Linked DNA regions of Homo sapiens. The protein of the gene in region 1 purifies or fractionates together with the protein of each later gene. This does not show direct contact. Each region holds a gene or a part of one and is shown on either strand. Other genes may lie near its edges.

What was found. The genes of interacting proteins can lie anywhere in the genome.
Region 2: the proteins of NAT10 (region 1) and AATF purify together in Homo sapiens (affinity purification with mass spectrometry; 3 studies listed by BioGRID and IntAct, with this or other methods). This does not show direct contact.

Annotation. Positions count from the first base shown.
Region 1 is NC_000011.10:34,143,629-34,147,632, reverse strand, and holds the end of NAT10 (RNA cytidine acetyltransferase), read right to left. Parts: intron 1,550-4,004; coding exon 1,441-1,549; 3' UTR 725-1,440; downstream 1-724. UniProt on the Homo sapiens protein: RNA cytidine acetyltransferase that catalyzes the formation of N(4)-acetylcytidine (ac4C) modification on mRNAs, 18S rRNA and tRNAs.
Region 2 is NC_000017.11:36,944,406-36,953,120, reverse strand, and holds the start of AATF (protein AATF), read right to left. Parts: upstream 4,168-8,715; 5' UTR 3,996-4,167; coding exon 3,905-3,995; intron 2,908-3,904; coding exon 2,716-2,907; intron 236-2,715; coding exon 1-235. UniProt on the Homo sapiens protein: Part of the small subunit (SSU) processome, first precursor of the small eukaryotic ribosomal subunit.

The sequences.
Region 1 (4,004 bases):
CCCATCCAGCTCTGACCATTTGAGCATGTGACTCTGCTTCTGGCCACGGTCTAAGAAAACCCTCTTTGAAAGGCAGGTTCAGGCACCCACCTGAGAAAATAAATAAAAATTATTTTCATGCCCCCTCCCTGCCTCCAGCAAAATTTCCTACAGACCTAACAGAGGTCTGTGGCCAGGAAACTTCAGTCCCAAGAAACGAAAGACCCCTAGGCTCATGTCCTGACAGCCTCGGTGACAAGCCTCAGCAGCCCTAGGGTCGCATACAGAACCTGCTCTTCTCCCTGTGGGGACGAGTCCTAGGAGCTGTATATGAAATACCCTTAGGCTGAGAAGTTACCGTTTCCTTCCCTGTCCTTCTCTGAACCTAGACAACATATCGGGGCTGCAGACTCATTAGCCTGGATACCATTAAACAAACATACCAAAGTATGTGTAAAGCCACCAGGTTACCTCTGTTCCCAACAAATGGAAGGGACCAAGTGACCTGGAAGGAGCTGGGAAGGAAATGAGGCAGTTCTAGCTGGCTTCCAGCCACCACACCAAGCCCCTCGAGGTGACCATAGCCACCTGCCACTTCTCCCGCAGACTCCTGGGCTGGGAAGCCCTAGACACACTGCTCACCTTTGACCTTGATACCAACACCTTCCAAATTCCACCAGGCAGCCAAGACCCACCAGAAGAAACGTCCAGGTGCGTGGATTTCAGAACACTCACAGGCAGCTGATCTTTCTAGAATGTTATTTATTAAAAATAGATTCTCTATCCTTCCCCTCACCCCTGCGAGCAAAGTGGCCTTTCCCAACATCTTTTCCCAAATGGATGAAACAGGTCTTGAGGACGCAGATGTGGCATTCTACATAAACTACAGGATCAGGCTTTTCTGGGACAGTGGGTCTGCTGGAGCCAAGAGTGGAACAGCACAAGACAACATCAGCAAACCCTGGCGCACCTAACCGCGGGCTGCCATGGATGCCGGGACGGACTGGAGTTCCTCCTGCTCCAGGTACAAGTCCACAAAGAGAGACCCAGCGGCCCAGCAGCAGCCTCCTGGGCACCACCAGAAAGCGATGTACTTAAGGGCCTCAGGCGGTCGAGAGGCAACGTGGCTTCCACATGTGTGGGAATGAGACTAAAAAGCTGGCTCAAAGCAAAATATGAACTTATAGGAAAGGAGGGCCCTGGACTGGGCAGGAAGAGAGAGACTCGTGGCAATTCTAGAGATGGCAGTGCCCAGCCATCAAGTTCTAAAGAGACCCATTTGGGAGTGACTCTGCCTTTAGCCAGGTTGAGCTCACAGACACACAGGCCCAGAGGCCGAATTCGCGGCCAGCTTCCAGGTGTGCCGGGGCCTCTCGTTGCTTTTAACAGTCCAGCCAGAGAGGGTTCAGTTAGTGAGAGTATCTTCCCATGATCAAACACAGATGCCCGAGTTTCTCTTCACTATTTCTTCCGCTTCAGTTTCATATCTTTTTTGTTCTTTGTCTCTCTGTTCTTCAACTTCTTGCTCTGTTTGGGTTCTTGTTTGGCCTCTAACTTCCTTTTCTTGTCACTAGAGAAAAATCAAAAATAGAAAGAATGAAATATGTACAGATCTGAACATCTGAGACTGCTTTAAGCTTGCTTTGCTTTGTCAAAAAGGGTTTCCACCGTCTGAAACTTGATGTAGGCCACCCAATTGGACATTAATGTTCTCTGCAAACCTATTAGGGGGCAGGCATTGTGCTGGGGCTGGGGACACACCATACAGACCAGCTCCTGCCCTGAGCCAGCTCTTAGTCTGTGGAAGAACAAATCTCGATCTTAACACCTGAAATCCGGGTTCTCCTCAGGGTGCAGTACACTCTGCTCCCCTCTCCCAAGACAGACCTAAGGCACCACAAGGATTCCCCACCACCACTCTCACCACTGCAGTGACTCTGGAAACTAGACATATTCATCCCAATGACCCTGAAGACAGTCCTTAATACAAGGCATGAGACTCCAAGGAAAACCCTGCCATACTTTCTGATGTGCTACTATTATTTTATTTTTCCTATATGAGAAGAAGAAAACCCAAACAACAGTAACTCAGGTGACACCCTGCGACCAGCCCCTGGATTCTTCATTGATATCCTGGCATAGGAATCACTCAGCAAACGGCCACCTGCCATTAAGAAACTTACAGGTTAAATTTTGCTCTGGGAACAAATACTTCCCTATAAGGAGACCGTGAAGAGTTCAGTCCAGAGACCATTAACATCATATGAATGAAGTACCTCTCAAAGGAAGAAAAAGAAAGGCCTCAGAGGACTTAATGATAGCTACCAGTATTTTTAGCTCACAAAGTTCAAGCTTTCACATTTACTCAGAGCCATCAAGCACATGAACAACCACACAACACTGGTTTGTTGGGCTCGAGAGGCTTCTCACTACCAGCAATGGCCAAACAAATGGCAGGAAAGGCCAAGCTCTGCAGAGTGAGGAGCTGAGGCCGTCTCCACAGCAAGCATGCTCCCCGGCCTTTTGTTCCAGTCAAAGCCACCGTGCTCAAGGCCAAAGCCATCATGGGCCCTGTGCTACATTTGCCATACTGTACAAAACAGAGACAGGTCACACTGACAGTGGGCTTCTGTGCTGCACCACAAAGCATCTGGGAAATGAGGCCGGCATCGATGCTGGATCCTTCAAGATGCCACAGTGACTAACGGAGACTCTGGAAGACAGTACCTGATTTCTGGGATCTATAGTTCCTAGAGACACAAGGTTTCCTCTTCCCGAATGTTTCCAAAATATAAGCTTTTAAGGAAACCAATAAATAGGGGATTGCCAAAATCTCACCCTCCCCATCAACCCCCAAATCAGCTGTGAAAGCCTCAATTCCAGTGGCTCTGGGCAGGGGAGGCCTCATTGTACTCCCAGGGAAAACTGATGAAGGTTCCAGCCTAAGTTATTTACAAATGCACCACTCTGCAGATAAGAAGCTTGGAGTGAAGATTTTCAAAGAGTGGTCTAGGGACTGCTGGGGTCCCTAAGACCCTTTCAGGTGTCCACAAGGTCAAAATGTATTTGGATTAGTATGAAAACAGTTATTTGCCTTTTTTCATTTTCATTCTCTCACAAATATTCAGTTTTCCAGAGAGTATAAGATATGACAGCAAAATAGTGTCAGTGAAGACACAGACATTAGTATCCGGCTGCCTTCTGTTAAGCCAGATATTGAAGAGATTTGCAAAAATGTAAATGTAAAACAATGCCACTCTTCTCACCAAAATTTTTATGAAAAAGAGTATTTTTCAAAACGACTGAGTCCGTTATTACTGTGAACAAATGAATTTTTTTTAAATTTCTCAGTTTTTCATTTATTTTCTTTTTAAAATTTTTTTGCAGAGACAGGGTCTGCTATGTTGCGCAGGTTGGTCTTGAACACCTGGGCTCAAGCGATCCTCCTACCTCGGCCTCCCAAAGTGCTGAGATTACAGGCGTGAGCCACTGCACCTGGCCAGTTTTTCATTTCTAATATGGGAAATTTCCATAGATATAACCAACAAAAGTCCTTTGGGGACCTTAATTGTTAAGAGATAAAGGAACTCAAAGACCCAAAACCTTGAGAACTGCTGGCTCAAAGGAAGGACAACGTAACAGTTAAACCTATGGCCTTGCAGTGGAGAAACCTGGACTTGATTCTGGCTCCGGCTCTCACTAGCTGTGTGCTTCTTGGGAACTTAACCCCTGAGAGCCTTGTTACTTCATCTTAAAGCAATGACAGTAATAAAACAGCCCCCTTATGCTGTCATCCTGAGGGCTGAATGATGAAAGCCCATAAGCAAGTCTCAGCCAGTGGCAGCTTCTGGACTGTTCCCTCAAGCCCTTCTCCATGACAGGCCCAGTGCCCTGGCATGGCTGACAAATACAAAGAGTGAAGAGATCCATGCCTAAGAGATGGCCCTCCTGGTCTGTGGGACATGCACTGCAAGGGTAATGGCCAGGGGACTCTCAAAGGGAAGAACCATGACTTTTCTGTCAAA
Region 2 (8,715 bases), on another chromosome or scaffold:
TCCTCCTCACTGCTCCCAAGGTCATCCATTCCCTTGGTAAATTTCTCAAAGTCACTGATACTCTGGACACTGAAGCCCGGTGTTTTTGCAGAGTGGCTTCTGCTCTTCTTGCTCTCCCTGTGATCACCACACTCCTGTTCCTCAGCAGCACCCAGGTCGTCCTCATCATATTCCTCCAGACCCAGTCCCTCTGAATCTTCATCTCCAGACCCTTCCTCATCAGATATTTCCTCATCTACAAAGAAGAGAGGGAAGAAAGAGAAAAATGGGTATTACCTGGAGAAAATACCAAGCCATAGACTTCATTTCAACTTAAGCACTGTGGCATCAGGGGGAAAATCTCTTACTGCACTCAATTCAACAATATATTTATTACACATCTACAATCTCCAAAATGCTAAGGGAGAAGCAAAGATGAATAGAACACGGGTCCTACCCTAACAAAAGGAGCTAGTGGGAAAGACAGACTCACAACATTACAACTCAAGGAAGCATCAGAAGTGCTTTGACAAAATTTCAATAACCCAGAAGAGTGAGAAATTTTAACTGTGGGGCAAGTGAATTTAAGCTAATCTCTAAGGAAGAGCTAGCATTTGCTCTGGCCCTTGAAGAACAGTAAGATTTCAACTGGTGTTAGAGAATTACCAGTTTTCCCAAACCTGATCTGAAAAAATGTACAATCTATCACATCCGTCTGCCCTATTTACTAAATACTTATTAAGCACTCATTATGAGCCAGGGGCTAAGGAAAGGCAAATAGAATTTAATACTTGCTGGGAGGAGTTCATGGTCTGGTGGGAGTGGTAGATATGCATGCCAATAATTATATTACAAGGTCATTAGTACACAGTGTATGGAGATGGAACCACCTAACTCTCCTGGAAAGGTGGGGGATGGTATCATGTGGAGAAGGAGACATTATAATTTTACTTATGAAGCATAAGGCAACAGCTCATAGATAATGAAGGGAAAACGCACTGGAGTGCAGGATGCACAAGGAAGTGATGGGAGATGAGACTAATCAGGAAAGGTCTCGTCTTTCATGAGGACTCTGAACTTGATCCTATAGTAGACAGAGTGCTAGTTAAGGCTCTTTGTTTGACTTATGCTTAGAGTATCATCTGATATGTAGAGGTTTTTACAGTTTATCCAATCTGTTCCATGGTAGAACATAAAAGCCCCATGTGTTTCAAGTATGATTCTAAGATAGAGGGACCAGTTTCCAAAAACTTTCTTCAATAAAATAAAGATTTTAGGAAAGCGTGACAGGTCTTCAGCGCTTCTTTAAAAAGGTATATATAAACTTAAGACACAAAGCTGCCAAAAATATAAATACAAAAACTAAGTGCCAAAACAGTAAACAGAAATTATTATTTAAATTCTTTGAATGTACGCCATTTCTCAGATTAAGAAACATTCATACAGAGTTTACTAGAGTGTACATCTTGGAGTCAGACAGCCTACATTTGAATCATGTTTCTTCCACTTACTAACTATATGACCTTGAGCAAACTTATGTAACCAATTTGCCCCTCGATTTCCTTATCTGTAAAATGGGGCTAAGTAGTAATAACTTCCTGCGCAATTGGGAGGATTAAATTAGGTGACACATGTAGTGATAATGGTGATAATTTTTTATAAAAATCTGTCTAATTCCAGGTAATTTTATAATTTTTTTTTTGAGGACTTACTGTGTCCCAGGCTCTTAGAACTTAAATTATAGAGCTAAACTCAGTGCCTGACGCATGGTAAGAACTCAATAAATATTATCATATTTGTCTCATGATTGGTCCCTTTATCAGTCTCTAGGCAAAGAATATGAAATGAGCTTATCAGGAGCTCCCAGAACTACATCAAGGACTAAATCATAGATATCATAACCTAAATGATAGTTCCTTTTATATTATCTGTGGATTCTCAACATGACACCCCTGACCTTTCTAAAGGAAAACAAATGACATTCTCCCAATAATCACCATATCTAGCCCCTTCTTCCACTCTGAGAAATTTACAATTCTTTAAAACTATAAGCGCACAGACTCCTAACTCTTTTGCAGGGAAGAGAAGGATTATGTGATTTTTTAGAATGGCAAAAAATGAGTTTCACAAATAACTAATATCACACAGTGCTTCAATGCAAGTCCTGGAAAACCAAAGGTCAGGGGTCACAATTCAAGGATAACATGTTCATCAGACACAGTGGTTTTTCAGCTCATAACCCTCTCCAGTAGCCAAAATGCACTGCCTTCTCTGTCACTCCACTGTAGGGTGAGCCATTAGTCCGAACATAAGGAGTATAGCAACTTAATCACTCTGGGCTTTAGATTCCTTATGAAGTGAAATGAAGTAACCTCTAAGACCCTTTCTAATACCAAATCAATGGTCTCTCCTAAGATAACAGATAGGGGTGCCTGACCAACATGGACAAACCCCGTCTCTACTAAAAATACAAAATTAGCCGGGCGTGGTGGTGCATGCCTGTAATCCCAGCTACTCGGGAGGCTGAGGCAGGAGCCTCGCTTGAACTCCAGAGGTGGAGGTTGCGGTGAGCCGAGATGGCGCCATCACACTCCAGCCTGGGCAACAAGAGCCAAACTCTGTCTCAAAAAAAAGATCCGCAGACTACTCTTGCAAAGATCATGGGGGATGACCGGAGGATTTTAACCCTGAAAAAATTAGGGAAGAGAAGAGTTCCATTCAAAAATGTCTACTCACCAGACGATCCTGGCAGAGTCTGCTCCCAATGGTCTTCATTCCATGCTTTTCTAGAGGTGGTTTTGCCGCAATACCTTTTGTCCGTGTCCAAGAGGGAGGCTGATGCCAGTTTTCTAATGCTACCCACTACTAGGAAATCACCTTCCCCATCTTCCCCTTCATCAAACCTGTCAATCACCCTGGCAGCAGTGGCTGTCGGGGGAGAGGGAAAAGTAAACAGAATCTCCAGGTTAGCAGAAACTTTAACGGGAACCCTGGTCGACCCATTTATCTCATAGTTGAACGTCCTTTACGAAATCCCCACCAACTTCCAGGAATAGGAAATTCACTCTCTCCCAAAGTAGAACACTGTCTTACTGCTGTTTCTAAACAGAAAGTTGACTCCTGGCATCTACTAGTGGGATCTATTTCTATGACTTGGATCCTATCAAACTAGTTGAATTCCTCTTCAATGTGTGACAGTCGCTCCAATATCTTAAATCAGTCATCACGTTCTCCCCTCACTCTGTCCCATTCTTTGGGGAGTTTTCTTTGCTTATTCTGGCTAAACAGTCCCGAGTTTCTTCAACTGATCTTCCTAAGATACGGTTCAGCACTCGCATTTATCCCTCCTTATTATCCCTTTCTCACACTTCCGACTCAAGTCTAAAGCGGGATTACTCCCAGCTAGACTCTGAACATCAGCTTACAGAACAGGAGTCTCAGTCGTCAGCCACTGAACAAGTGTCTTGAGACTTCAAGAGACTTAAACAGCACCAGAAAATCCTTCCATCAGTCTCCAACTTAGTTTTGAAGGGCAACCTGAATTAAAAACATGCGACTTTCTTCTCCTCCTTTCTAACGCAATACCAGAAAGGGCATCCTCAAAGCTAACTTCCAACTTGCTAGCAGACTCTCTGGCTCCCTCCAACAGGCCTGGAGCAAGTAAACCTGAAGACCAGCTCCTCTCGGCCTGAGCCCTCGATCTGTTCCGCCCATCCAGCCGAGCACCAAGTTTCGAGTGCGTGTGAAAAGAAGCCGAAGCCCTCCTCCCGAGGCCGGGACCACCCTCGCGGGAGGCGACGTTCCTCTGCGCCAAGCGAAGGAGCGCAGGCCCGGCGGCCTCGCGCACGCCCCTCCCACGCCGCCCCCTTGCCCCACAGGGCCTGGCCCACCGCTCCGCACGTGGCCTGCCCCAGTCCGGCCTCACCTTCCTCGGGGTCCGCTTCAGGGTCCGCCTCGCTTGGTCGCGGGTTCAACAACTGTTCCAGTTGCAGCGCCAGGGGCTGCGGCCCCGCCATCGTCACCAGCTCCCGGTCCACTCCGCTTCGCGCACGTAAATGTGCGGCCCAACCCCCGGCCCCGAAGCTCCTTCCCTGCCGGATCCTCTCGCCTTGATCCGATTCCCCGACTCCGCCAGAGACCGCGCGGAGGCCACCCCACAGCTCTGGACCGGCCACTTCCGGGAGGCGCGCGGGAGGGGGCGGGGCCTGCGCGTCACTGCGGGCGTTGCTAGCATGAAGGCGGAAGCGCGCAGAAGGTTGAAGGGATTGGAGCCGTATGGGCGCGTGTGCGCGTGCGCGTGCGAGTGCGCGGGAAGGGGCGGTGCGGAAGCGCGCCAAGGCACGTGACCGCTTCTGTCGCTGAGATGCGATTGCGATGCGCGCGGCCAGTGTCCCCTTGTACAAAATATGCCTCGAGATTTGTGCGAGATTCGCTTAGGAATAAAGCATAGCGTAGCCGTGGCCCACGGTGGCTGATTTGGGAAGGAGGAGGGAGTAGGGCTTAAGCTGCTCGAATCGCGGGTGCGCACTCGGGCACGCAGAGACTGGGACCCAAAGCAGGTTTGTCATTTCGCAATTTATAGTAGTCTGAGGCCGGGCACACGCCTCCCGCCCTTCAGCGGCCAGGATTTGGGAATCCTATGTCAGGGATATGCACGTGTAAGTGTGTGGCGGACTGCTGGCGTCTTTCTTAATGGGAATACTTAGGAATCGCTGTGGCTAAAGATAGTTTCAGTAGCGTCTCTAAGTACCCTTGCCTGAGCAAGGGAAAGGGGGTGGGGTGTGGATTACTCCACTGCATACCCCTCGGTATTGATTATCTTTGCTGTTCAGAGATGAGGGCATGCTCAGGCAGCTTAAGCAGGTGCACAAATGCAGAAAAATACAGGTCTACCGTTAGAGGGACAGACTCAAAATATAAAGACTTAATAGTATAAATGTAATTGCACCCCGCACACGGAAAGACACAATCGCTTTACATCCTCTTTCCTTCATCAAGCATTCCCTGACTGCCCACTATGTGGCAGGCACTGCTAGATAAGATACAAGATAAGTAAGTTGGATTCTCCCCCCCACGGTAATCAGCCTAGGAGGGTAGACAAACATGTAAACAGAAACTGCAATAAGGGATGATAAGTGTGACTACAAAGTGGTCTATTCTTATGGTATCTGTTGGAGGTTGCCTGTAGAGACCTAGACCCCTCTAAACAGAATCTGCCTCAAAAGGATCCAGAAAAGAGATGTTAGTGGTGCACTGTGGCAGTGCCCCTTGGGTACAGCCCGGGCCAGTTGGATCCCACAGCTGAACAACTGGGGAACCCTCAGCTCTCTACTGTCTCCCATGAAAACCAAGGGAAGAGAGGATCTCTGACTTTCACAATCTTCATATGTCCTCAGGGCCAAGAGCAATAAGAGGACACCACTTTAGTGGAGCCTGTTCCATGTCCCTGTAAAGTGGCCCTTGAAGAATGAAGACAACCAGGGCTGCAGAGGGGAAGGAGAACCTGTCTGAGGGTAAACCCCCTCAGACATGGAAGGAAAAGAATGCCAGGCTAGGCAGGGCACTCAGGAGAAGAAAACGGCTTTTTACCATCCATAAGAGAGCTTAGCCTAAGAGAACAGTTTTTCGTTTATCCTCTATAATTGCAGTCTTGTGCCTGTGTCCGGGCCTCCCAAGCAAAAGTGTGTTCCTTGCTCCTTGACAAGGTGCCATGGGGCTTCAAAGGACAAAAATGTTTCTCCCACCCCACATTTAAGAAACTACCTCCTGCAATCCTATCCCCTTGCTATGTTGGGTACTTACAATGCTTAGAAACCTGGCCTTTGAGGTAAAGAGAAGGAAGAAAAGAGAAAGGGAGGTGAGTCACTGCAGAGACCACCTCTAAGCTGTCATGCAAACAGGACACTGCTGGTCAATTTGGGGGCTGTGCTGGGCAAACACTCAGCAGAAAATGCCATAGACCTGTTTACTTACTCTCCCTTCTCTGTCCTGGTCCCTACTGACTTGGGAAGCCATTTTAGCAAGGAATCAAGACCGTTCTACTGTCACACACATCCCAGGGCCCCCCAAAATGTTTGCCTGACCTTATACTGAAGGTAGAAAGAGGACTCCAGGAGTGGAGGGAAGAGGAAGTAATTCTAGGAATTAAGATGCAACTGAGAGTAGTTGAGGCAAGGGACAGGGGAGCAAATTCTCAAATACTCCCTCTGGGGGCCTCTCCCTACCTGCATTCCAGTGTCTTGAGATGGTGGGGGAAGGGCTTATTGATGGGGTAGGGATGGAGATGGAGAGTGGACTGTGGCGAGGAGTTTCAACCTCTGACTGATGTAGAGATGAGAGCAGATGAGAGGAACAGGGAGAGGAGAATAAGGGTGAGCAGTTCCCTAACAGAATGGCCTTCTCCAGAGAAGGCGGAGGGGCGCCCAGTCCACAATCCCTCTCCCTGCCCTCCAAGGGCTGCAAAGTGGCAGGCGATTAGGCACAGCAGAGGATGGGCAAGGGGTGACACTTTCCAATTGTCCCAAACAACTGTCTGCTCACTTGACAAGGAGTTTCAAGAGTTTGGGAAAACCAAGTTCCCACTTGCCTCTCTTCAGATGCTGTCCACCCTCAGGTGCCAGCCCTGGCAATGCCTATCCTGGCTCTCCACAGGTAATACTTCCCCAAGTGCCTCACCTAGAGCAGCTTACCAGCGGCAGCCAGCCCGGAGAAGTTGGGTGGGTGAGCTTCAGCTCCCTCGCCAGAGCAGATGGTGGCTCCCTGCTGCTGGAACCCTGAAGGCAGGTGGCGAGAGGCACAGAGGTGGTGGCTTTAAGATGGCCACAGGGAGAAACCAGGCTGCCCTCCCAGGCGAGAGGGGACTGCAGTGGCGCTTCCCTCCTGCTGCGCCTCCTGCGGGAGCTCCGCCTAGGTATGGTGCCGCACGTCCCCGCACCTCGGGGCCAGAGGTGGGCGGCACAGCACTGATGGGAAGGAGAACAGGCCCTGACATTTCCAGGCCTCCTCCTTGGGGCCTTCGGCTCCAAATTTGACTGCTGAGCGTTGCCACCTGTTCGGGTTTTCGCCAGGATTCTGAATCCCGCGACGAGGGGAGAGACTGCGCCACAACCACGTTGTTAGAAGAATCGAATCCACATCGTGTGCCCAACTCGAAAACGCTTCTTATCAAATACCCCGATTGCACAATAAAGCTGCTAAATAATTCAGCAGCCTTGATAGGAAAATGCAGCTTCCCAGTGAGCGCAGTTCATTTAAATGAATGTCTTTAAAGGGGGCTAGGGAGTAGAGGCTATAATGAATAAGTTAGCTAGGATTTAATGTGTATAAATGCTAAAAAGGTAAAAACAAGCCGATCCAGTGATTGCATATAAAGCAAATAAAGAAATGTGCTGCATGCAGAGGCTGGGAGTTTCAAAAGTCTCCTCTGTATTTCATACATTTTTATTTCTGAAAGAACACTGCCAGATTCCTCCCGGATAGCCTCCTCCCCCATTAGATAAGCCATCATATGGATGCAGTGAAATATTGCTTATTTTAAAGCCTTCTCTGCAGGAAAGATAAACTTGGCTGTGTCTTAACAAAATTTGAAAACAGCACTGGAAATTATATACCATTTAATGTCAAACCTTTGACTTTTTAAATAAGGAAATAAATAATCCAGAGTGAAATCTAGGTGATATGGAAAAGAAATCCTGGAACTCTAATAGCATCTGATACTGAAACACACACACATCCACAAGAATATTTCATAGTAGATAAAATATTCAAATTTCTTCCAAGTCTAATGAAGGACTGGAAAGAATCGAGCTACTTTTAGAACCTTTTGAGTTGAAATTTGATTTTGATATTAGTTATTTTTGTTCATCTTTCAGAGAAACTTAATATGTATCTTGTGCCAGGCAAAATAGTTTTCCTTCTGGGGAACTTCAAAGGTAACAAATACTATAAAACAACAATTTCATATCAGTTCTGTGAAAGGGATTAAAGTATTTCATTTCTAGCTGTACTATACATTCATTTTACATTATCTTTCAAACCACCAAATTAGAAAGCCTTTACATTATCTTTCAAACTACCAAATTAGAAAGCCGGATTATCTATAGGAAATGAAATGAAACTGAAAAGGACCACCTCTAACTATGTATTACAAGTATCTGATACAAGCCCAGTTTTGCATGTGCAGGGAGAGTGAAAGAGGGAATGCCTTGGATCTTATGCCTAATCACAGACCTGGACCACTCATTTTTTAGCCATGGATTTGATTTCTATTTCAAATTCTATATTAACTTATCAGCAAACATCTCTTCAACGGTATCAGTTAAATCCACAGGATGTAAATCTGTAGCTAATAACAGCAGGAAGCCACAGAGAAAAGCTTGGCTGGCATTAGCAAAAGGTTTCAGCCATAGCCAAGGCAAAAACAGATATATCATCCCAATCCTGCCTCTCTTTTCCACCTGGCTTCTGAGGACCCATTCAGCTCCCCATCAGGGTTCCCCTTTGAAAACATCAAATAACACACCAATTATCTAAACATCAGATTTTCTATTTTTATTAAAAACTCACAAATTTATTCAACATGTTTTCTTTCATACAGTGAATGGTCTAATATGCACTGGAGGTCACACAAGCTTAGGTTTATTAGAACAATAAAAGACATATGAGAAATTTAATATATAAAGAAAAAGTAGCAGCTGTTGACTGCATATTTGACCATAAAATTTAAATATTTTGGAC